Homo sapiens: one gene and its partners. The protein of the gene in region 2 purifies or fractionates together with the protein of the main gene of each other region. This does not show direct contact. Each region holds a gene or a part of one and is shown on either strand. Other genes may lie near its edges.

Region 1 (4,843 bases), about 87 Mb from region 2:
GAAATAAAAATAAGGAAAATCTGTTTATATTTTTAATGGGTGATAGTGGGTATCAGAATATTGTGATAATAAAACTCCAGTGCATAAATTTAAAGTGTTAATGTAACCATTTTCTTTTGAATTTTGTTAGGCTGGAATAGATATTTAAAATGATTTAATCTTACCAGGAATTTTGACATATCTACAACTTAAATGTATTACTGTACTGGGAGATTGTTGGGGTTTTATTTGTTTGTTTTGTTGTTGTTCATATACCCCCTAAAAAATTTTTTTAAAAAACTCAAACGAGCACTGGTGGTATAGGAAGTGTGCAGACAGTGAAGAAGGTTGGGCATGGTGGTTTATGCCTGTAATCCCAACACTTGGGGAGGCCAAGGTGGGAGGATTGCTTGAGCTCAGGAGTTCAAGACCAGCCTGGGTGACATGACGAAACCCTGTCTTTACAAAAATTTTTTAAATCGGCCTGGTGTAGTAGTGTGTGCCTGTAGTCCCAGCTACTTGGGAAACTCAGGCAGGAGGATCACTTGAACCCAAAAAGTTAAAGCTGCAGTGGACCGTGACTGTGTCTGGGCATACTGCAGCCTGGGTGACAGAGCAACTCTGTCTAAAAAAGAAAAAAAATTAGAAGAGATTCTGGGGTGGAACCTTAAAAACCTCCTGATTTAAAGAAGAAGTTCAGGAGAAGAGGATGCTGCCATGAAGACTGGGAAAGAGGAAGCAGATGGCTAGATGAAGAGAGGAAGGGCAGTGACCCCAGGGAGGCTGCAGGAAGATAAGGGCAGTGACAGTGGGCCATCCAGTGGGGTAAAGAACTGAAACACGTGTGTATGATTTCATGATGAGATCATTTCAGGCTTCCTGAGAGCACTAGTAAAGGAGCATAAGCCGAATTTGAGTGATTAGAATCCTTTTCTCAGCACTGATATTCATTAGTGTGTAATGGGGTCTTTCCATTACCTCCTTTGCTTCCTTGCCTTTTGGCTAAAGTCAGGTTAAATATATATCACTTCTGATTATGTGCCCTCCTCAACAAAGACATTTCTGTTTGTCTGCATGTCACGCTATGTGATTGACACCACACGACCATATGAATTATGTAGTGTAGGAAAGGACAATATGTGTACTTACACAGGTAATCTTTCTAGCAAGAGTTTTATTTAAAAATACCATGAAGAATCAAGTTTACTAGGAAATATTGGATTTAAACAAGGCTCAATATTCAAAACTTTCTAAATAATTCCCAGATCTTGTACTGTAACATGACCATGATATAAAAACACAAACTATACTAACCAGGGTAGTTTTAAGTAGTGATGCTAAGTAGTACATGCTAAAAGAGTTTGGCATGTACTCTGAAGATTTAATTTGATGTATTTCTCCTGAAAATCTGAAAATTTTGAATCTGAAAATTCTCTTTAGCTAGTAATGCTGATATTCACACATGTGGTTACAACTTCAGCAGAAGGACATCTCTAGTGTTGACTCTTCCTTTCCTTATCTTGTCTCCTGCTTCGTGAAAGATCAGAAATAATATGGGACAGTTGTCTAAAACTCTGTAGATGAAATGTTCAAGTATAGCCTGACCTAAATCCAGAGAACTGAAAGACAAAAAAGGACTTTTAAGGAAAAAAATATGATTAGACAGCAACTAAATAAATAAAAGAATAAATGACTTCTGTTTTATACCTACAGGCTGTTGTCTGCCATTCTCAGAGTTTCAGAAGTTGAATCTCGAGCAATAAGAGCAGATCTCACTCATCTACTAAGTCCCCAGATGGGCAAAGATATTGTTTGGTTTTTAAAACGCTGGGCAAAGACTTATCTCCTGGTGGATGAAAAACTGTATGATCAGGTCAGAATGTAAAACTTAAAACTTCATTTGGATTTATGATGATAGCAGTTATAGAAGCAGGAACATTTTTCTTGGTGGTTTTTCATCAAAATAGAACTGTTTAAGAGCAGTTTAACATTTTCTGTGTGGAAGAGAATTATGTGACTGGAATGCTGTTTTAATGTGTTTTTGAGCACATCCCTTGATATCGTTTATTTTAACTGCTGTTGAAGATACAGATTATTATTTGGGAATAGATTATGCTTTTTTGTATTTGGTTTAATACTATGTTAATTTTTTAATACTATGGGAATAATAGAAGTTGACGGGAAAATCACACTGGAAAATGTGAGTGGATTGAGGATGTCTTTTTTTTTGACCAGTGGAAATGAGTACATGTGTAAAGTTGATGTGAAGTAAGCACTACTTCAGATTAGATACTAATTTCAGTTCGATTTTTCTCTGTTTTTTTTTTCTTGAGTTGATCTTTCTTGCTTACCTTAAAAAATTTGTTTCCTCTCTTAAGATAAGTCTGCCATTCAGTACAGCGTTCGGAGCAGATACAGAGGGTTCTCAGTGGATAATTGGCTACCTCTTACAAAAAGTCATCAGTAACCTCTCAGTCTGGAGTAGTGAGCAGGACCTTGCAAATGACACTGTGCAGCTCCTTGTCACTTTGGTGGAAAGAAGAGAAAGGTTAGCCCATTGTTGGAGGCTGACTGTGTGTGTATGTGTGTGGGTGAGAAACTCTTTTTCACTTCTTAGTGTAGTCCTTTGAACTGGCAAATGGTTACACGGTCCTAATTCCAGATAGAGCCTACATTTTTGGAGTAATGGGTTTTAAAAACTATGTCACAGTACTATTACAAATGCAAATGGAGCTTTCCCATCTTATAATTGAGCATTACATTGACTCCTTCAGGATTTGGCATCAAAGCCCTATGAGTAACACATTAGTAATTTATCGTGTTGCAAACACTTTTATGTGGAATATGCTCATTTGAATTTTTAGACATCCCCATTTTAAAGATTAAATACTGATATTTAAAATTTAATGTTGGAAAGTAAAATTTTTAGTGCTTTCTACAACAATTCTAGAAATGTTTTCGTTGTTCTTACTGTATAGGAGTATCATTGTTATTATTACCATTGTCATTGTCTGGTTTATTGAATTCTTATAATTTACTATGTACTCTTCTAAGCATGTCATAGGTAGTATCTCATTTAATCATTATATCAGTCTCAGCCCCAGGAGACTGTTATTATTCCTATTTTGCAGATTATAGAGAAGTGATGATTGATAGAGGTTAAATAAATTTTACATCACCAGACAACTAGTGGGATTTGAATGTAAGCCTGTGACTTCAAAGTCTATACTAAGTTTACTGTACTTTGCTTTAACAGTAATTAAATCTAGTTATTTTTTATTTTTGTTTTCTTTGTGTGTATATGTGTATGTGTGTATGTATATACATAGTAATACATCTTATGTTTTGTTATTTCTACCTGTAGGGCAAACTTAGTAATTCAATGTGAGAACTGGTGGAATTTAGCTAAGCAGTTTGCAAGCCGAAGCCCACCTCTTAATTTCTTGTCAAGTCCTGTGCAGAGGACATTGATGAAGGCTCTAGTCTTAGGAGGTTTTGCACATATGGACACAGAAACCAAACAGCAGTATTGGACAGAGGTAACAGTGCTGTCTATTTTGATTGCACCCTTTTGTGTAACTCTGTAGTTCCTTTATCTATGCGTTGCCGTAAGAGTCTCTGGAGACATAAATGTATCAGTCATAGCTTTTCTTTCTTTCTTTCTTTCTTTTTTTTTTTTTTCTGAGATAGGGTCTTACTCTGTTGCCCAGGCTGGAGTACAGTGGTGCAGTCTCAGCTCATTGCAGCCTCTACCTCCCAGGTTCAAGCGATTCTCCTGCCTCAGCCTCCCAAGTGGCTGGGACTACAGACTCATGCCACCATACCCAGCTAATTTTTGTTTTTTTTAGTAGAGACGGGCTTTTGCCATGTTGGCCAGGCTGGTCTCGAACTCCTGGCCTCAAGCAATCTGCCCGCCTTGGCCTCCCAAAGTGCTGGGATTACAGATGTGACCAGCCACTGTGCCCGGCCCAGTCATAGCTTTTCTGATATTTTTTCTCCTAATGAATGGGTTGAAGCTTCTTATTTTACAAATGTTGTCTTATAATTTTTCTGTACCTGCCTGTGTGTGATGACATTGAATATTATCAAGTGTTCTGCATTTTAGGCACATTTTTCACAACTCAGTCGAGAGCATGGACTGGCTTATTAAATTTTCATTAGGGATCAGGGAAATATTCTCCTGTCTTGAATAAGATGCAGATTAACCATGATATTCATTTCCTAGGGCTGCTCTAACAAAATACCACAACAGAAATTTGTTTTCTCCTACTTCTGGAGGCTAGAAGTCCAAGCTATAAGGTGTCCATGGGATTTGTTCTTTCTGAAGGCTATGAGGGAAAATCTGTAGCCTCTGGTAGCTTGCTGGCAGTCTTTGGCATTCCTTGATTTGTAAACGCATCACCCTGATCCCTGCCTTCATCTTCACATGCTCCCCCTGTGTGTGTCTGCATCCACACTTCCCCTTTCTATATCAGTTATATTGAACTAGGGGCCCACCCTATTCCGGTATGACCTCATCTGAACTAATTACATCTATGACAACCCTATTTTCTTTTTTTTTGAGACGGAGTCTTGCTCTGTCACTCAGGCTGGAGTGCAGTGGTGTGATCTTGGCTCACTGCAACCTCCACCTCCTGGGTCAAGCGACTCTCCTGTCTCAGCCTCCTAAGTAGGTGGGATTACAGGTGCGCACCACCATGCCTGGCTAATTTTTGTATTTTTAGTAGAGACGGGGTTTTGCCATGTTGGCCAGGCTGGTCTCCTGACCTCAAGTGATCCGCCCACCTCAGCCTTCCAAAACGTTGGGATTACAGGTGTGAGCCACTGCATCCGGCCAACTCTATTATCAAATAAGTTCATATCC
Region 2 (5,298 bases):
TTCTCTGGGTTGCAGCTTTCTCATCTAAAATGAAAACAATAATGCCCAACTAACAGAGTTGTTGAGAAAGTAAATGATATACATTCCCAGAGCCCAACACAGTGTTTGCACATGAAACACGCCTGATAATTGTTAGCTTCGCTGTCCTCTTCTCTGTATATTATGGAGTGCCTACCTCAGATATTTGCAGAAACAGTGGGTGATAAATCTATTTGAAGAGAAACCTTCTGTTTCTCTAACTCTTCAGAAATGGGAATGTCTTTTAAAAAAAAAATATCACCACAACAAAAATGCAGCTGCTCAATGCAGTTCTTTTAAGTAGGAGTTGATCTATAAAAAGAATAAGCATTAAAACTAACATTTTCCATTCATATGGAATTACTAATAAAAACAACACAGGTATAAACATTTTGAATTTATTTTAAAAATCACCTACCCATGTCTGCAATGTTAAAAAAAATAGTCAAAAGTATAAAGAATTATTGAGCTTTCAAGAAAAGATAAAAAGGCTTAATGAACCTGGCCTCTCCATTCAAAATGAAAACGCATTTCTTTCCCTTCCTCACCCTTCACATTCCTGATACTCATTCACCTGCCCTAACCTTTTCACTTTTTCAACATATTTACCATTTTTTTGTATTTTAATTTGCTAATTAACTATATGTACTATCATTTTTCTGTTTCTCTTCAACTCACGATAATGTAAGATTGTGTAAAAGAGACACAATATCACATTTGGCTGTGTTGACTGATTTGTTTCCTAGCTCTTCCGTTTCCCAAAATCTCAAGCTTAACAAGAACAGGTCAAAGATTTGGTTGGAAGGTCAACGTTTTCAATTTTAAATGCTTTTCCAGAAGTTGAACAGAAGCCAGTTCTTGCAACACTGAAGAAAAGTCTCACTATTGAAGCAGGGGGAAAGAAAAAATAACTCTCAGGGAAAGCTCTGGTCAAAGATCGCCTAAGCAGCAGCCAGCTGGTTCTGTTCCACGAAGGAACACACCCTTGCTGGGTAAGAGGCTCAAGTCAGCCTAATTTTGATAAGGGCTGGATGGTCAAGTTCTACATTGCACGCTTCCAACACTCATGTTACAGCCTGGAACTCACAGCTAAGCCAGAAATGCCAACCGGGCAAAGACTGGACATTACAGACTTGTCAAACATCTCATCTTTCCTTGCAAAGGAGTTGGACTTTGGATTTCAAAAAAGAAGACTCAAAAATAGTATTGATATCTTCACTTTTAGCAATTAGAAAGGTTTATCCGATAGAAAACTTAAGGTATAATATTTGGTGTTTATATATGCTACATTCAAAATTTTAATTTAAAAAATGTTAAATACAATGTGATATCCTGATGGATCCTAAAACATAAAATCATTAGTAGAAAAACTCGTGAAATTCAAATTAAGTCTAGAATTTAGCTAATAGTTAAGTCTTAATGTTGGTTTCCTTTTTGTAATGAAATACCATGTTCATATAAGATGTTAGTATTAGGGAAGCTGGATAGGGGTACATGCCAACACACTGTATTCTTTGCAAGCTGTGTGTAATTCTTAAACAATCCCAAGCTCACTTAAAAATGAAGAAAAATATACCTTAAAGTAGATTGACCAAAAATCTCATGATAATTATTTGGAAGGTGAAATACGGACAATTTTTTCTATTCTTGCTTTACATTACTTTGAATTGTCCATATTTTTACTATTATTTTATTATTAAAATTGAGACAATTATAATAAACATTATCAATAAAAATAATTTTGTCTTTCTGTATCCTAAAACACATAAATTTCTAATAGTTATTAATTAACAGGAAAGAAAATACAATGGTTACCTAATTTTAACAATGAACCTTTTTAGGTCAGTGATACCCATTTGAAAGAATTCACTTTCTTGATAGACTCTAAAGACATTCATCTTTAGGTTCTTAAAATTAATAAAATTATAGTTAAGTGATGTTCAAAATGTGGATCTTCATGATTCCATTTGTAAATAAATTTTATTACGTAATATTTTCAAAGCCATATTGTTTTAGTTAATTTTTAAATTGGGAATATCTCCAAACACAGTTACGGGCTTAAAAGTGAATTTTTGGCTAATATGAGCTATTTGGCAATTTTTTAATCCTGGATTTCCCCACATTTCTGTTTATTATACTACAATCAAAAATGATATTATGAAATACATTAAGCTTAATGAGATTTTGGTTTGAAACACAAAGTAATTAAGAAAAACAAAACTAAAGCCAAAGTACTAAATTCTAAAATTAAAACATTAAGTAAAACCACTGTTTACCCATGGGATGCCTGGAAGAGAGTATCATTGGGACATGTTGGCTGATGGTAATTCCCCTCCCTTCTTCTACAGTTTGTGTGAAGTTCCAATAAAAATACTTGGTTCTAAAACATGTAGACAATTAATAAATATGAACATAAATAAACACTTTAAAAGTAAAAAGGACAACTTAAGGTTTTGAGTCTTACTGAAAATAAATCAGAACTTGAATGAAAACAAAAATCAAAGAAAGCTGCATAGAATTTTCTCAATGCCAAAAAATTCCTACTAAAAAACGTCCTTGTGTTACAGACAACTTTTTTGGGAATATAAACATTAATTTTGGAGTATGCTAAATAAAATAAACTTTCCCTCCACCAAAGAATAGTATCTAGAACAACATTCAAATGAATTTCCTAATTTTATTAACAAGGAATAGTAGACATGATGTCATTAAGATTCTTATCTTCAAATCTTCCACCTTGGATTTGTGAAAGTTATGAGTGTGTATACTATGTCCTATTTGAATATATACACATAACACATATGCACACTATGTATGTATATATATGTATATATATATATATTTGTATGTGTATATATTTGTACATATATTTGTATAAATATATGTATTTGTTCATATATGTATTGTTCATATGTATTGTTCATATGTATATGAACAAATACAGTTGATCCTTGAACAACACAGGAATTAGGGTCACTGACCCCATGCAGTCAAAACTTTGTGCTTAACTTTTGACTCCCAAATCTTAATTACTAACAGCCCACTGTTGACCAGAAGCCTTTCTGATAACAAAAACTCAATCAATACGCATTTCATAAATTATATGTATTATGTAGTGTATTCTTACAATAAAATAAGCTAGAGAAAAGAAAATGTTATTTTAAAAAATCATAAGGAAGAGAAAATGCATTTACTATTCATTAAGTGGAAGTGGATCATTATAGAGTTCTTCATTCTTCACATTGAGTAAGCTAAGGGGGAGGAGGGAAAGGAGGCGTTGGTCTTGCTATCTCAAGGGTGGAAAGTGGAAGAAAATCCACATACAAGGGGACCCTCGCGGTTCAAACCTGTGTTGTTCAAGGGTCAACTATAATGTCATGACTCTTCTTTGCTTCCTGGGAGCATTTCCAGCATCACTATCGCATTTTCTATAGGTCTCATGGTGTTATTCAAGGTTTATGATATTGCATTACACAAGAAGAAAAATACACACAAATCATGAGAAATCATTTTTACTGCAATATCCAACTGATTGGAGATACAACTGGCTCATGCAGAGATGATTAGCATCACATGGTGTTTTAAGCAGATACTCACAGCACTTGAGCTCACTGCAGTAGCAACAGGAGGTGGCTATGAAATTATTACAGTAGTACAGTATGTACCACAGTTAATTTTATGCAGTGATGACTTAATACTGCATGTTTATGTTTGTTTCCATTTCTCTAGACTACAAAGGGCGCTATGTACAGTCTGTTTGTATGCATATGTTTTGAGAATTTTTAACTTTTGTGTATATTTTATGATAGTAATAAGAAAATAGACCAGTATCTACATATATTTTATACATTCATGACATGGCTAATTAATCTTAATATTTTCAACATTTCAAAGATACACAGTTCTTCCATGAGTTTTTTCAAATTATCACAAATCTACAGATAATTTTCCAATAGGTTTATTGAAAAAAAAAATCCACCTGTAAGTGTATCCATGCTGTTAAAACTTGTGTTGTTCAAGGCTCAACTGTGTGCAATATATACCTATATGCACACTGTATTAAGGTTTATTAAAAAGTCTAGGGCAAACCATGAAATAATAATAGTAGCTACTTCTGGGCTGTGGAAATCTGGGCAAATTTTTTTTCACTTTGTTAGAATCTACAAATTGCAAATTATTTGGTGAAAGATTCTCATCAGTATACTATTCCTGGATGCCATTAAAACACAAATACATAAAAGTATTAATAGGAGAATTTTGGGAAAATGTGACCCAAGAAGTTATTTCTTTCCTACTCTATTATTCTTTTCTTCTTAAATCTGCTGAAATGAGTCTACATCTTTTTTTTTAATTGTAAAGTTAAAGTTTATTTTTAAAACTAATATTTAGAAACGGGGATATTAGCAGTGAAGGTTAAGGAGATTGAAGGATCCTGACCCTACTAGTTATTGAAGCCTCTTATAATACAAATTACCTTAAAAATATTCTTTAAAGCATATAAATAGAATAATCAATTAAAAAAAAGAGTCTCAAATAGATTCAACTCTTATGAGGAACTTAATAAAACACAGTAAGCTTTTCAACACCAAGGAGTTAAAAAGAACTATTTAATACATTTGGTTGAGATACCAGTTAGAAAGGAAAAAAGAGAGAGGGGGAAGTTAAAGCCAATGTGAGATGATTCATCAAAATAAACAACAGAAGGACTAATGAGTTAAAACAAAACACTCAACTATGAAAAAGTCAAAGTGGCAGGGAGTCAACTACTTAAGAAAACATGAACAAATGTATTTTTAGCTTTAATATTAGGGAAAATTTTTTAAAGATTATCACTTTACTATAGAGAAATGCAAAATGTTCAAGTAAAAAAAGAAGCAAAACTGTTAAAATATTTACATCAAAATTTTGATCAATTATCAATATGTCTAATTAGGAAGAGCTTATCCAAAATTATAAAAACATGGGACAGACAAGTGGAGACAGTTATAAATAAAAATTAGCAAAAGATAAAATTATAAATAATCAAAATATGCAGAAAGTTTATTCATATTAGTAAACAAGCAACACATCAAAATAAATGTGAGATATTGTTTTACAACTACTAAACTAGTCAAAATACACTTTAAAAATAACATGCAAGCAAGAATGTGGAGAACCGGTACACCACATTTTTGATTGCATGTATAACTCATTTTGAAAACAATATGGCAGTCGGAAGCAAGGGTGATGAAGATGTTTCTTCTCCCTAGCTCAGATATTCCACTATATGAATTTTATATT
Region 3 (5,314 bases), on a different chromosome or scaffold from region 2:
TTTGTTGTGGCGGCCCTAGCAAACACATGAAGGAAATATTGCCCGTAAGGAGAAAAAACTCAGAATATCATTAGAGATGGACAGATAGAGGTCTTCATGTTTGCAGGTGAAACAGAACAGAAAGCAATGAAGTTCCCACTCAATGTATTTCATTTCCTCTATGAAGCAGAAGGGAACTTTATCCAGTAAAGAGTAAAGAGGGGGCCGGGCGTGGTGGCTCAAGCCTGTAATCCCAGCACTTTGGGAGGCTGAGGCAGGGGGATCACCTGAGGTCGAGAGTTCGAGACCAGCCTGACAAACATGGAGAAACCCCGTCTCTACTAAAAATACAAAATTAGCTGGGCATGGCGGTGCATGCCGGTAATCCCAGCTACTCAGGAGGCTGAGGCAGGAGAATCACTTGAACCCAGGAGGCGGAGGTTGCAGTGAATTGAGATCGCGCCACTGCACTCCAGCCTGGGCAAAAAGAGCAGAACTCCATCTCAAAAAAAAAAAAAAAAAAAAAGTAAAGACGGGGCCGGGCTCACTCCTGTAATCCCAGCACTTTGGGAGGCCAAGGTGGGTGGAGTTCAGGGAGGTCAGGAGTTCAAGACCAGTCTGGCCAAAATGGTGAAACCCTGTCTACTAAAAATACAAAAATTAGCCAGGCTTGGTGGCAGGCACCTGTAATCCTAGCTACTCTGGAGGCTGAGGCAGGAGAACCGCTTGAACCCGGGAGGCGGAAGATGCAGTGAGCAGAGATCACGCCACTGCACTCCAGCCTAGGTGACAGTGAGACCCCGCCTCAAAAAAAATAAAGAGGAAAGGTGGTGGGTTAATAGCCACCATGATAAACAGGAGCAGTTAGCAGGGACACACAGGATTGTTAGGCTGCCTGTACAGTACCCAATAGACGTTTGTTATTGAATGAACACCTAATTGTCATTCATGAATTTTAGTCCGTTTTTAATATAACAAGCTCTGACAGTAACCAGCAAAAGAAAAGCACTGGAATGAGTTGGAATCTGGGTTATAAATCTAGGTATGTGTGACCTTATGCAAGGCACTTACCTTTCTGGGCCTCAGTTTCATCAGACTGGATAATCAGCATAAGATCACCTCAGATTAAAATAAATGATGCTATAAATTTTTATACCGGTTTGTGCATTACCTCAGTGTTCTTCAACTGTTACCAACCAAAGTAGTGCATCTCAAGATTTATTGAACATTCCTTTCATCTAGATAACTTGTTAAAATTGCAGATTTTGATTCAGCAGCTCTGGATTGAGCCTGAGATCATGCATTTCTAATAAACTCCCAGGTGATGCTATATACCACAATTTGAGTAGCAAGGGTAAAGAACACTGATGCAACTTAAGCTCTACAAAGCTTATAACTGTGGACTTATCTGTAATAAGTCTGATAGTCAGCAAACCAAACACACTACAGACTCACACCAGCACTAAATGTGTTTTGCCATTCCTTAAACGCTCTGAAATTAACAGTCCCTATTTGAAGCTGATAAAGAAAGGAAAAAATATTACCATCAATAACACTAAATTAGAAGTGAGGTTACATACATACACACACACAGGTACAAATATATAACACAAAGGTCAAAATCCAAATAATCAAACATTACCTTACCCAAAATTTGAATATTTTTATTGCTGAGAAAAAAAAATTTTGTTTCTGGAAAAATCTTCAGTGTATTTTAATAGCCACATGCCTACAAGGATCATGCTGCATTCTGGTTTGATTCCAAATGCAAATATATTCAAACATCACAAAATCTAAAAATTGTTCTATTAATGATCAGATAATCTTTACATATTTGTTTAAAACCTCTAACATTACCACAGCCAAATGTGTTTGTGGTGAAAATTCTCTTTGGCCTTAGAAGTTCAACTAGGGCGGAGACCACCCTCCTACCCTGAGACTATAATATATGGCCACAAGCCACTACTATAATTAATTGTTTCTACTATACCCTGTGCTAGGTTACTGCAGAAACAGAGAAAATACCAGTCCCATCATAACCAAAAGGGAAAATGTTTCTACTTTCACCGAAATTTTCCTCAGTGATGAAAGATGTAATATGTGTCATGCAATGGATGTCTCCTATAGAAGAGTCACCCTGCCCTTAATCTGAAGCTCCTCTACTGAACAGAGAAGTTTGAAATAACATGAAAATGGAGGAAGAAAATTCCTATCCCAGGAGGGGGAAAAGCATTATGGCTACAAACTATTCTTCCTTCTGAAGAATAACCGAAATCTGAAGGGCACTACCGCGCTACAACTGAGCTCGTTTAAATTATGGAGGGGAGGAGGTATGTCAACTGCAACCTTGGCACTAGTAGGTAATTTACCAGTCCTTGCTATTTAGTCAAATCACTTTCAGATAGTACTTCTCTCATTCACCAACATGTCACAAAATAATAAAGAAAAAATGACACACGTAATAAGCAAAAGTAGTTTTGCTGAATCACAAATACCCCCAAATATAAATCTACAGGAGTCGCTGAGCTTGAGAATTGGCGGCCATACCTCTCCATGAAGCTCCTCTCTATAAACGGACAACTACCTTCACTTTTTCATTAAAAGCATGTAAGGGTCTAATGTTTAAAGCTATCACACTATTGCTATTAGCAACAAGGTCGCGTGCGCAGTAACAATGCACAACGGTCTTATACTCGAGATAACCACTTTATCTCAAAATTTGCACCACCTATCCCCCAAGGGCAAATGCATCACCCAGGTCCGCAACCGCGGTCACGATGGGTACACTCGCCTCTGCTCAGCCTAGCATACGGTCCCTCCCACCCCGCACCCTGATTGCTCCACTACCATGCTGCCCACTCCCGGGCTGCCTCGGCCAGCCCCCAGTTCCCCGGGTTCCTAAGGTTGCGCAAACAGCCAAGTCTGCAGGCCGCCCTTGCCTCGCTACCGTTATCCCTCATCTCCTGGTAGCCCCACTTTCCTCCCGCCTCTCGGGACTCGGGTGCCCAACCCACTCCCTTCCACTCCCGCGCGCTCGGTGGCTCTCGGGCCGGGGCCTCACCGTTTGGTTCGGTCGGGAATTGCCCGGCCCTCCCGCTCCCACTTCCCAACACGAAGTGGCGTCGGTTGGTCCCTCTCCCCACGCTGCCAGACCCCACGCCGCCGCCTACTGATGCCGAAAGCGGCTTCTAGGAACACGCCATGTTTGGCGTCGCAGCTCCAAACGACGCGGACGCGCGAAAACTACGTCACAGGAGACCAGCGCGCATGCGACCGGCAGAGAGAGAAGGCGATAGGCGAACGGCGGGAAGGGGAAGGAGGGGCTTTGTCTTTGAACCAAAAGGCGCGGGGTATCCAAATCAGTTGTGTGCGCTTGCGCAGTGCGCTTGCGCAGTATAAAGAGCCAGGAGTCCGGACTAGCCGGATCTGTCACCATGGAAACCATAGGTCTGGTTTCTCCGACTCCCAGGGAGCTCAATTGTTTCCTGCGTTGATTGAAGCTTCAATCAGAACCATTTCACGCTTTATATTCTAGATATCAATAGCGGATCCGTCACAGCAGAGAAGAGTTATTTAAAGAATCTTACTCCCATCAGTCCACCCTCCCTCCCGCAAATATTTATTTTTTAAGTTACCCAAATTGCTTGGCGCTTACTCCTGAGTAATAGCAAGAGTGGAAAAATGTAAAAGGACATAAATCCAGTTCTGCTTGCCTCTGCTAAAAGCTAGCATAGTCACCTAAATTTTCTTATCCTTAAAAAGAGAACTTACTCAGGCGCAGTGGCGCGCGCCTGTAGTCCCAGCTACTCCAGATATGGAGGCAGGAGGATCACTTGAGCCCAGGAATTCGAAGCCAACCTGGGACATATAGAGAGTTCACACACACACACACACACACACACACACACCCATTTCAAAAATAATAAGGGGTGGGCACAGTAGCTCACACCTGTAATCCCGGCACTTTGGGAGGCTGAGGCGGCCGGACCACGAAGTCCGAAGTTCGAGACCAGCCTGGCCAACATGATGAAACCCTGTCTCTACTAAAAATACAGTAATTAGCCTGGCGCGGTGGCGGGCGCCTGTAATCCCAGCTACTCAGGAGGCTGAGGCAGGGGAATCGCTTGAACCCTGGAGGCAGAGGTTGCAGTGAGCCAAGATTGCTCCACTGCACTCCAGCCTGGGCAACAGAGCGAGACTCCGTCTCAAAATAAATAAACAAATAAATAAATAAATAAATAAATAGACTCCGTCTCAAAATAAATAAATTAATTAAAAATACACACCAACTATATATTTCTTAAAAATAATAATAGTAAGGCCAGGCACAGTGGCTCACGCCTGTAATCCCAGCACTTTGGGAGGCCGAGGCGGGCAGATCACCTTAGGTCAGGAGTTCGAGACCAGCTTGACCAACAAGGAGAAACCCCATCTCTACTAAAAATATAAAAAATTAGCTGGGCATGATGGTGCACCCCTGTAATCCCAGCTACTCGGGAGGCTGAGGTAGGAGAATCGCTTGAACCCTGGGGGCAAAGGTTGCAGTGAGGCGAGATCGCGCCATTGCACTCCAGCCTGGGCAATAAGAGCAAAACTCCGTCTCAAAATAATAATAATAATAGTAAAAGAAGTTGTAAGGAAATAGAGTGTTCAAAAATATTAATAATAGAAAACCTTTATTGCTAATTTAGAATATTCCAGGTACAGTTTTAAGATCTTTATGGGAATTATCTATTTTAATCCTCAGAACAACCCTTATGAGGTAGGTATTTTCTTTATGTCCACTTCACAGATGAAGAAACTGAAGCACAGAGAAGTCAAGTAGCCCACCTAACGTCAAACAGCTAGTAAAAGGCCATGTTAGGATTTGAACCAAGCTCTGCATTCCAAGAATGTCGATCACACAAGGGCTGTTTTTTAAAGTAAAAAGATAAAATTACCTAAACAACCACCAATGACACAAATGATTAAATCACAATACATCCATACATAATAAAATACAAATTGACCATTTAAAATTATGTTGAGGTCGGGCACAGTGGCTCACACCTGTAATCACAGCACTTTGGGAGACCAAGACGGACAGGTCACCTGAGGTCAGGAGTTCAAGACCAGCTTGGCCAACATGGTGAAACCCTGTCTCTACTGAAACTACAAAAATTAGCCTGGCGTGGTGGCATGCGCTTGTAATCCCAGCTACTCAGGAGACTGAGACAGAAGAATCGCTTGAGGCCGGGAGGCGGAGGTTGCAGTGAGCCGAGTTCGCACCACTGCACTCCAGCCTAAGCGACAGAGCGAGACTCCATCTCAAGAAAAAATAAATAGGCCGGGCGCA
Region 4 (4,843 bases), on a different chromosome or scaffold from region 2:
TGTTATAATCTACAGAATAAAATAAGATGGCTGGGCACGGTGACTCACGCCTATAATCCCAGCACTTTGGGAGGCCGAGGTGGGCGATCACTTGAGGCCAGGAGTTTGAGACCAGCCTGGGCAAAATGGCAAAACCCCGTCTCTACTAAAAATACAAAAAAGTCATCCGGGTATGGTGGCAGCCGCATGTAATCCCAGCTACTCAGGAGGCTGAGGTGGGAGGATCACCTGAGCCCGGGAGGTGGAGGTTGCAGTGAGCTGAGATTGCACCACTGCACTCCAGCGTGGGTGACAGAGTGATACCCTGGCTCAAAAAAAAAAAAAAAAAAAAAAGATACAGAATAAAATAAGAATCCAAGAGCCCATACAGTTAAGAGCTTCCTTACAATGGAATACCAACTCTTCAGCTCTTTTGAGAATGAAATAATAATAACAAAAAAAATAGGATACCAACTTTCTTGTAGAAGAGTGATATAGAAGAAATGATGAAAATAGAAAAACAGCCATTTGACAACCATCAGAATAATATTTACATAATCTGAAAATACTTTGCCCAAAATAGGTTAAAATAGTAATTTTAGATTGAAGAAACCTGGCAGACAGTATCTTTTTTTTTTGAGATGGAGTTTCACTCTTGTTGCCCAGGCTTGAGTGCAATGGTGCAATCTCGGCTCACTGCAACCTCCGCCTCCCGGATTCAAGCAATTCTCCTGTATCAGCCTCCAGAGTAGCTGGGATTATAGGCGCCTGCCACTACGCCCGGCTAATTTTTGTATTTTTAGTAGAGACATGGTTTCACTATGTTGGCCACGCTTGTCAAACTCTTGACCTCAGGTGATCTACCTGCCTCGGCCTCCCAAAGTGCTGAGATTACAGGTGCCCGCCACCATGCCCAGCTAATTTTTTATAATTTTAGTAGAGATGGGGTTTTACCATGTTGGCCAGGCTGGTCTTGAACTCTTGACCTCAGGTAATCTGCCCACCTCGGCCTTCCAAAGTGCTGGGATTACAGGCGTGAGCCACTGTGCCCGGCCCGACAGTATCCTAATCAAGCGATCCAGGCATGCATCACCAGTAATGGGACAGACAAGACAGCACGCGCCTCCTGGTATGAGGAGCTGAGGACAGCACCGCTCTTGTGGTATTCCTGCCAAATATTCATAACCTGGATCGAATCTTGAGAAGTATCAGAGAAGCCCGACTGAGAGGCTCAACAACATAACTGGCCTGCACTCTTCCAAATACCAAGGTAATGAGAGGCAAAGAAAGACTGTTCTAGATGACAAGAGACTACAGAGTCATGACAGCAAAATGCAACGTGAAATCCTGGACTGGATGCTGGAACAGAAAAATATGTTTTCCCTTTCGTTATAACAGTTCACAACTGGCAAGATCTGAATGAGGCCTATAGATAGATATGAATATTGTAAAAAAAAAAGAGGCCAGGTGTGGCATGTGGTGGTGTGCACCTGTAATCCCAGCTACTCGGGAGGCTGAGGTGGGAGAATCACTTGAACCTGGGAGGTGGAGGTTGCAGTGAGCTGAGATCATGCCACTGCGCTCCAGCCTGGGCAACAGAGCGAGACTCCATCTCAAAAAAATGAATTAAAAAAAAAAAAAAAGAGTGTTCTGCTAATGTGACCCACAATATGCAATTCTGTAGTGGTACTCTGAGGCTTTGAAAATCAAGTAATAGGAAGAGAGCCCATTAATTCCAGGCCACAAGCAGCCCTGGAGAAAATAGAAATTCAGAAAAAAAAAAAAAAAGAGAGAGAGAGAGAGAGAAACAAGGCAGGATTACCATACCCAGCTCTGGGTTCAAGTCTCAACTCAGCTACTGTCTGGCTTAACAACAACTGGACAGGCCCTCTGACCTCTCAGGTCTCATTTCCACCAGATTTCCTGGGAAACAAGCCACTGTCTTTATTAGTAAACTACAAAATGTATTTTGCATGAGTACAAAATGTATTTTGCAAGTGAGTAAGTATGTAAATAAATAAGTCATCTTTTGATAATAACATGAATTCTGGTTTGTTTGTTTTTTTTTTGAGAGACTCTCGCTCTATTGCCCAGGCTGGAATGCAGTGGAGTGATCTTGGCTCACTGCAACCTCCACCTCCCGGGTTCAAGCGGTTCTCCTGCCTCAGCTTCCCAAGTAGCTGGCATTACAGGCGTGCACCACCACGCCCGGCTAATTTTTGTATTTTTAGTACAGACGGGGTTTTGCCATGTTGGCCAGGCTGGTCTTGAAATCCTGGACTAAAGTGATCCACTCGCCTCGGCCTCCTAAAGTGTTAGGATTACAGGTGTGAGCCACCGTGCCCGGCCTAAAATGGATTCTATTTTAATATCAGTCAATCACAAAACAATCCCCCTAGACAGCCCTCTCTTAGATTTTAATATTATTTTCACTAAAAAAAGGAAGGGAGATGAAGAAATGGTATCCTTAGTAGAATGCAGCTTGTAAGTTTCCCTCCAATTCTCAATACATTTTGCAATCCCATTAGTTCTTCTTCTGTAATAATTCTGCTCTTTCAGTTCTCCTCCTCCCCTCTTTTTGGTGTGTCTAATTTGCTTTGCATGCATTTATTTGGAGCTCGCATGGCTTTGCATTTTAAATACCAAGAGTACGTAAAAATAGCCATTTTGAATCCATAACACCTCTGGAATATTTCCACCCATAGGCACTTAAATATAGAAACTTTTATTCAAATAGCTCACACTATCATTTTGCTTTATTATTCTAAGAGCTGTGGAGTTTAGGAATAAACCACATGAAAAGGAGGTAGTGCTGGGACGATGCCAGCATGCCCCCTAGTGGGCAGCATGAAACATTTCATTTTTAATAAGGGTCCAGCCACGTTAACATGTTCACTGTTCGTTCAGCTGCTAATCTTTGAAGAATGAGGTGCATATCTTTATAAAAGAATTCCTGTGCATTATCTTTGGCTTCTTAAACAGAAAACAGTGACCACAAGGAAACCTCTCTATCATGACTCAGGTCCATTTCTTTGGACCCTTTGTAAGCTTCCATCACTGAGTGAATTTCTGTGCTAGCTCCAATTTGGTGCCGCCCCACCCCGTGCCTGCAGGATGTCTGCATGGTGCAGACAGTAAGTCTTGGTGTTTCCAATTCCAATAGTCTCACTACTACTAATGCTTCTAAGACTTTATTTTTTAAACATTATTTTTAAGTAGAGATGGGGATCTTGCTATGTTGCCTAGGTTGGTCTTGAACTTCTGGTCACAAGCAAACCTTCCGCCTCAGTCTCCCTAAATGCTGGGATTACAGGTGTGAGCCACCTTGCCTGACCATGCTAATGCTTCTAAGTTTGCAGTCTCAAATTGTGAAATTATCAATGAGCCTCACTTAACACATCCTCTTAAGGATAAATATTAGTAAGTAATATTAAGGCACCCTAATGTGTTAAGAGGATGGATCCTGACCTTCAGGGAGAGTTGGGCCATCAAGGGCATGATAATATGTAAAGGATTACTGTAAAAGTGTTAGAGCACCCACTTAAAATAGGCTATTCTCTTATTTAGCATCTCGTGTCTATACTTTCTTCCATCTCACTTTAAAAAAAAAACCCACATAATTTCTTGGAAATAAAAACATAATAGCCCTTTTAATAAAAAGACAAAAGTGGTCGAGACTGTGGCTAGCATGTTCTACATAATTCACATTCCTTAAAGTTTCTATTAGGTCTTTTTAGGAAGAAAAGATTGTCCTCATTCTTTTCTGCCTTGCAATTATACATTTCTTGACACTTTTCAAAACAGAGACACTAACAGCAAGAGACTTTTTCATCTGAGAGGTCTGAGCAAAAGCTCTCTTTACCTGTTAATTATGTTAGGAGTCTATCATGACAGCAATTGACATGCGACCCTTACAGGTCTTCCTTATTTTGTGGCTGTAATTACATGGGAATGTCATTTGTCCAGGTTTTGTCTCTGTGTATCTGTCAGGCTTAGAGATGGGCAGATAAACAATTCTATGGAGAGACTGCTTTTCATTCTTGGACTAACGATGAATACCACACATTTGTCTACGGATTAAAGGTATTACTCATTAAAAAAAAAATGTATACATGTGTATGCACAGCGGAGGGAGGGAGAAAGCAAGGGGAAAAACAGTTATGGCTTATACTCAATTTGTACTCTGAAGAAATAGGACTTGTTTATATTTCATGTAAAAATATTAGAAGGATTGGCCAGGTGCAATGTATTGGCCAGGTGCAATGGCTCATGCCTGTAATCCCAGTACTTTGCAGGGCCAAGGTGGGTGGATCACTTGAGGGCAGGAGTTTGAGACCAGCCCGGCCAACATGGCAAACCCCCATCCCTATGAAAAATACAAAAATTAGCTGGGTGTGATGGCGCACACCTGTGGTCCCAGCTACTAGGGAAGCTGAGGCAGGAGAATTGCCTGAACCTGGGAGGTGGAGGTTGTAGTGAGCCAAGATCACACCACTGCTTTGTAGCCTGGGCCACACAGCAAAAGACTCTGTCTCAAAAAAACACAAAAAACAAAAAAACAAAAAAAAGTTCATAGAATGCTAGTACAATCTAACAGATATCTTTTCCTGAGTAAATATTATATTAAAGAACAGAGCACTTCATTTCTAAAAGGTGAAGTGTCAGAAAGAGTGTGTGTGATATCAATCATTAGAGAAATTATGATAAATTGTTCAAAATGATACAGTTTGGCAATCAGATTGGGGAAGGTGCGGGAAAGCTTATTTTGATTGAATTCTTGGGAAGAAAAGATGAAAAGTCAACGCCTGCATACCAAAAGAAGATGGCAAAAATGAAAACACAGCAGAAGTCCTCTATTGTTTGG

Evidence for each region.
Region 1: the proteins of TNFSF13B (region 2) and XPO4 purify together in Homo sapiens (affinity purification with mass spectrometry; 4 studies listed by BioGRID and IntAct, with this or other methods). This does not show direct contact.
Region 3: the proteins of TNFSF13B (region 2) and IPO11 purify together in Homo sapiens (affinity purification with mass spectrometry; 4 studies listed by BioGRID and IntAct, with this or other methods). This does not show direct contact.
Region 4: the proteins of TNFSF13B (region 2) and PDSS1 purify together in Homo sapiens (affinity purification with mass spectrometry; 3 studies listed by BioGRID and IntAct, with this or other methods). This does not show direct contact.

Annotation. Positions count from the first base shown.
Region 1 is NC_000013.11:20,797,840-20,802,682, reverse strand, and holds part of XPO4 (exportin-4), read left to right. Parts: intron 1-1,692; coding exon 1,693-1,852; intron 1,853-2,357; coding exon 2,358-2,527; intron 2,528-3,343; coding exon 3,344-3,518; intron 3,519-4,843. UniProt on the Homo sapiens protein: Mediates the nuclear export of proteins (cargos), such as EIF5A, SMAD3 and isoform M2 of PKM (PKM2). In the nucleus binds cooperatively to its cargo and to the GTPase Ran in its active GTP-bound form.
Region 2 is NC_000013.11:108,271,929-108,277,226, reverse strand, and holds part of TNFSF13B (tumor necrosis factor ligand superfamily member 13B), read right to left. Parts: intron 1-5,298. UniProt on the Homo sapiens protein: Cytokine that binds to TNFRSF13B/TACI and TNFRSF17/BCMA. TNFSF13/APRIL binds to the same 2 receptors. Together, they form a 2 ligands -2 receptors pathway involved in the stimulation of B- and T-cell function and the regulation of humoral immunity.
Region 3 is NC_000005.10:62,410,656-62,415,969, reverse strand, and holds the start of IPO11 (importin-11), read right to left. Parts: upstream 3,208-5,314; 5' UTR 3,041-3,207; intron 1-3,040. UniProt on the Homo sapiens protein: Functions in nuclear protein import as nuclear transport receptor. Serves as receptor for nuclear localization signals (NLS) in cargo substrates.
Region 4 is NC_000010.11:26,724,265-26,729,107, reverse strand, and holds part of PDSS1 (all trans-polyprenyl-diphosphate synthase PDSS1), read right to left. Parts: intron 1-4,843. UniProt on the Homo sapiens protein: Heterotetrameric enzyme that catalyzes the condensation of farnesyl diphosphate (FPP), which acts as a primer, and isopentenyl diphosphate (IPP) to produce prenyl diphosphates of varying chain lengths and participates in the determination of the side chain of ubiquinone.